Regions from separate parts of the Homo sapiens genome. Here region 2 is linked to region 1. The links come from fine-mapping of genetic effects on gene expression. Tissue or cell type: tibial nerve. Region 1 holds a variant in brackets; the other region holds the start of a gene. All regions are shown on one strand. Distances are from middle to middle.

Region 1 (2,763 bases):
CTATCCCGTGCCCATACATTGCTCTAATCCTGGGGCTGGAGGGTCTGGAGGGAGGCTTAAAGGTCAGCCTTCTTTAGCCCTTCAGCCGATAGTGTCCACAGTGCTTAGGGGCAGAGGTCCTACCATACCACCTCTTACATCTGACCTGATTTTAACTCTGCCTGACAAGTAGTAATTACCTTTTAAAGAGCTGGAGAAATGAAGACGCCTGGTATATTTTAAACATAGTTCCCCCAGGCAGGTGTGACTGGGTTCTTCTCAATGCGTTTTTATCAGACTGCGGGGTTTGCATGAGGTACGTCCAGGCTTGGAAGCACCCTGGGAACCCAGAGGCTTAACGACTTTAAATGTACTTTTTTCATATGGTACCCCAGGATGAAAATGAAGGTCTTTTTAGAGTAATTTGGTTATAAAGAAATTGTGGTACCTGAGTGGCTTTTTTGTGCAGGAGTCAAAAAACAAAAAATATAAGCAGGCTTGATTGATCTTAAGAGATTACTGATGTTGCATGATTTGTGGCCTCTTTACTACTTCATTTCTAATCTGAAATTGCTACTCTCCTGTGGCATCATTAACATTATAAAACCTAAGCTAGTTTTCCTTACAAATGTGATTCCTGTCCTAGGATTTCCAGTCTGACAAAGAAATAAACAGGAGCAAGTACCATACACATGAGTAATTCGCCTGCAAAAAGATGCTCATGAAGATACCATAAATCACTGGTTCTTAATCAGGGTGATTTCACCCGTTGGGGAATTTGTCTCATTTGAGAAGGAGCTGCTACTGGCATCTAGTGGGGAGAGGCCGAGGATGCTGCCTAGGATAGACAGCACCCCTCCCCACCACGATGAAGAATTATCTGGTCCAAAATGCAGGTAGTGCTAAGGTTAAAAGCCCTGTCAACAATGTGCAGAAGATACAACATGAACCGATAAATTGGCTAAATTAGGAAAAATTCAAAATGATGCCCACAATTGTGGCTACTTGTCTCTGGGATTTTTAGGAGCCCCCATC[C/T]CTGCTTTAGCTTTTTGTTTTGAAATCACTTTAGACTTACAGATTGGATATTTTCAGCCCTATTTCCTTAGCGTGTGGGAGGCTTTGCTAGATGTTGAATGAAAAATGGGATGAGGACCAAATCCATTTAGGTTTTACTTCCATGTCAACTATGTGGGAAACAGTTGAGGGCTCAGAGCAGAGAGGAAGGCTTGGAGATAAGCTTGTGGGCTTCCTAGAAACATCCAGCAGGGTGTCCTCTGCATCCCTCTGTGTGTTTGCCCTTTGCTTCTGCTTGGCTTAGGTCGCTTAGTGCCAGTGGAATTGGTGTCGGGGAGGGGTGCGGGGGAGACACCTCCTGATTAGGCCACTGATGAGCTTTGGTCCTCAGAGAAACCATTTCCCACCCTAAACTTTACCCCAGTCATTGAGGGTGGCCGGGACAATCCAGTGGGCCACTACCTATTAAATAAATATGTAGGTGTATGTATCTTATAATTAGAACATAGACACCTGGAAAGTGAAAATCTCCCATAATTCTGATGATAAACTTACATACATTTAAAAACTGGAAAAATATATACATTAACACAAACATTATTAGAGATAAACATGGAATTATAATTTTACAGTACATTATACTGTTTTACAACTTGGTTGTTTTTTTTTTTGAGACAGGGTCTCACTCTGTCGCCCAGGCTGGAGTGCAGTGGCACGATCTCGGCTCACTGCAACCTCCGCTTCTGGATCAAGGGATTCTCGTGCCTCAGCCTCCCGAGTAACTGGGATTACAGGCGTGTGCCACCATGCCCAGCTACGTTTTGTGTTTTTAGTAGAGACAGGGTTTTGCCACGTTGGCCAGGCTAGTCTGGAACTCCTGACCTAAAGTGATCTGCACATTACAGGCGTGAACCACTGCGCCCGGCTGTACAACTTGTATTTTTTACCATGCTATATTGTGGACCTTTTTTGTTCTAGTATAATGAGTAAATTACTTAAAGTTGTCTGTAAAATAAGGATTATAGTGTCTATCCACCTACTTCAGAGATATCAGAAAGACACAAATATAAATTGAGATTTAGAAAGTCGATTGAGTCTTTTAGATGAAAATTATTATATACCATGCTGACTTTTTCATTGACTATACCAATGTTGAATGATTTTATTACTAGTTTCTTTTGAGGTGTTACTGAAATATTTTTAAAGACATTGAGTCCTCAGAAACCATTATGGCCATGTTAATATAGTTTGTGTAATATAGATTTCAAGTGTCTTTTTGTGTCTTCACAGGCAAATACATGTATCAGCCTATGACCCCTGTGGAACAGCTTCCAAGCACTGAGATTCCTGCCAGGCCTCGGGAACCCACAAACACCATTCAGATCTCAGTCTCGCTCACCGAACACTTTTTGAAATTTGCATCTGTCTTCCAGCCTCCCCTTCCCCCTGACTCACCGAGGTACTGTATGATTTCAGACCTTTTTATTGACAACTATCAGGTTAAATGTATTAATGGGAAGATGTGTTATGTGCAGAAGCAGCCGGCACCACATTCCCACAGAATGAGCCCTGAGGAGGTCTCTGCACACGATGCCTTAATTTCAAAAGAGAGCAATACACCAAAAATAGATCACTGCTCTTCTCCCTCAAGTTCTGAGGACTCTGGGATCAATGCGATTGGGGCTCACTATGTGGAATCGTGTGACGAGGACACAGAAGAAGGAGCAGAACTGAGTTCAGAGGAAGATTACAGTCCAGAGAGCAGCTGGG
Region 2 (2,763 bases), 68 kb before region 1:
GTACCACACACACCCGATTTGATCCGTATATGCCATGTGCACACTCGACATGCCAGATACACGCACTGCACTGCCACACATATACCATACACACACCACTCTGTATTACTAAGCATACCCACCCCCACAACACGTGCACAAGCACATGCACGTCCAACTACACACATATACATATTCTGCACGCCACACACACTCAACCACACACACACCACCCACACTCCACCTCAGTTATAACATTCATTTCACATACACACGTATACACACACCTCACCAGTCACTTGCATCACGCATACCACCCACCATGTACCATGAACACACCTAACCACACACAACCACACACGCATACCCACCATACATACTCCAAATAATCATACACACGCACGCAACACACACATCCCATGCACACCAAACTACACATACGCAGACACACACACACATCAATGCACCCAGCTTTGTTGCTTTCCCGCTCAACGGAGGCGGGGGTGGGAGGAGAAGGGGGAGGGGCTGCGGTCCCGGCGAAGGTTGGGGCGGGCGCGGGAAGGCCCGGGCGCACTGGCCTGGGGTTTGGGGCGAGGCGGGCAGGGGTTGGCGGTGCTGGCCCCTGACGCGCCCTGTGGCCGCGCTGGGGCAGGAGGCCCGCCCTGGGTGGGGGGAGTGCGCGCGTGTGCACGAGCGTGTGCGCGCCTCCCAGGGGCTCCATGCCCAGACACGGGGAGGTGTGTACGAGGGAGATGTGAGACGCCTGTGGGGACAGGCTGTGTGTGTGAGATCCTCGCTACGCGATGCACCCGGCCCGGGCCACTAGGAGGTTCGGGTGGGCGTGGGCCAGGTGTGCGCAGCCCTCCGTGGAGCGTGTGGACGCGTGTGTCAGTTCTCGGTGGCCAGTGTCACTCGGGGGGAAGTGCATATGTAGGCTGGCGTGCATGTGAGTACAAAGCGGCCGAGGAGTGTGTGTTCACCACGGCCCTCCGTCGGGGTCTTTCTCCGAGGAAGGAGTGAGTATGTGAGGAGGACCTCGCTGTGACCGGCGGGGACGCCGACGGCCAAGCTCCCCAGCGGCGTGTGTGTGAGAAGGCCGGGCTCGCTGAGGAACGTCGCGCGGGGCCGACCGGCGCGCGCCTGTGCGCGTGCGTGTGCGCGTGGGGCGCGGCGCGCGCCGCGCCGGAGGGAGGGAGGCTGCCAGCCCGGACCCGGTCGCAGCGCCCGGGGCGGCTCCTCCTCGAGCCTGGGACCGCCGCGCTCCCGCCGCCGCCGCGTGCTGGCGTGACTCCCGGCCCGTGCCGCGCCCTCCCGCGTCCGCAGCCGGCTCGGCTTCCTGCCCACCCAGACGTCGCTTCTCCCGGGCTCCCGGTGTCGGCTCCGCGCGGAGGGAGAGGAAATGAGTGCGGCGGCCTCGCCGGCGTCGGAGCGGGGTTGGAAGAGCGAGAAACTAGATGAGGCTCAGGCCCTGGCGCGGAGTTGCGCCGCCCGCAGACCCGACTTCCAGCCGTGCGACGGGCTGTCTATCTGTGCCACGCACAGCCATGGCAAGTGCTTCAAGCTGCACTGGTGCTGTCACCTAGGATGGTGTCACTGTAAGTCGAGCCGCGTCTTCCCGCCTTCCGCCGCGGTCCGGGGGACGCCCGCCGGGCCGTCCGGGGTCGCTGCCGGAACTCTGCGGCCGCGGGGCTCCGGGCTCTGCCGGGGCTGCTCTGCCGGAGGCTGGGGCCGCCGTGGGCTCCGGGCCCGCCGGAGCTTTCCTTGCGCCGGACGGCTGGGGTTGGCGCTGCCTTGACGACGAGATGAAATCCCGTGGGGCGCCTCGCTTTCTTTAGCTACTTCTACAAAAGGGAGCTCCCTGTCCCAGGGAAGCGGGAATCTGGTTTTTTTTCTTTTCTTTTTCTTTTTTTGACCAAGGCGTCCAGGCGGTGTTTTGAGAAATGGGAGCGAGCCAGCTGAGTTGGCGACAGCTGTTGGGGATGCCTTTTTTCAAGGTTGCTGGTTAAAGATGCTCCTCTTTTTCTTTCTCACTTTTGTCTTCCTGGGCTGCTATTTAAAAGAAGGAGCCCTTGGATATCCAATTGTTTCCCCCTTGATTGTACCCAAATTGAGAAAAAGCGCTAATGTGGGAGGGATTGCTTCCAAGAAGTTAATATTAACAGTTTGGAAGGTCGAGCTCCTTAAATACCCAGATGTAGAATTTAGAGCCAAATAAATGAGACTTATAAAATTACAAAATAAAATGAGTGAAAGTAAGCTTAATAGTCTTAAACCAATTTATAAAAGCTAGAACCAAATGGTCTAAACCCTTTCTCTGTGTTTAGCCTCCTGCCTGTGATTTTTAAATAGATTAAACTTAAGTAGCCATTTAATTAGAATTTCACAATTTGATTAGCTAATAGTATTTGGACTATATCCGATGAATCATTCATTTTAAGAAATATATTCTAAAGTTAGTTTCCACATATATTTGTAATAGAGGGTTTTGGAGTGCTTATTTAGGACATTTTCCAAGTGATCTTAAGTTAAAATGAATTTTTCTTTGTTGAGAAAAAAATAGCTGACAACCAGGAATGCAGTACATAACAAATCCTTATTTACATTAATCGAACATAAATGAATATTTTAAATCGAATTTATGAATTCAAGGATAGAGGATCATTTTCTTTACAAATTCCAGGCACATAGAACAGTATTGATTTCTGGTGTTCCATTTGCTTATGGGCCAGTTTCTTCCTATTTCTCATTATTCCTGTTGTGCTCAGATCTGTTCTCTTTTGTTAG

What was found. PIP is the estimated chance that this variant, and not a neighbour inherited with it, causes the effect.
Region 2: it holds the start of C3orf70, and the variant in region 1 is fine-mapped to the expression of C3orf70 in tibial nerve (GTEx, PIP above 0.99).

Annotation. Positions count from the first base shown.
Region 1 is chr3:185,083,084-185,085,846 of GRCh38, reverse strand. C3orf70 (chromosome 3 open reading frame 70) reads left to right here. Exons shown (of 2, transcript NM_001025266.3): 2 at 2,284-2,763. Among named protein-coding and RNA genes, the nearest start is that of C3orf70, 69 kb to the left of the region's middle. The variant C/T (reference allele first, on the strand shown) is at 1,015.
Region 2 is chr3:185,151,439-185,154,201 of GRCh38, reverse strand. It overlaps C3orf70 (chromosome 3 open reading frame 70), which reads left to right and starts at 1,142. Exons shown (of 2, transcript NM_001025266.3): 1 at 1,142-1,574. The coding sequence starts at 1,379. RefSeq lists an enhancer at 957-1,096 and a silencer at 1,517-1,736.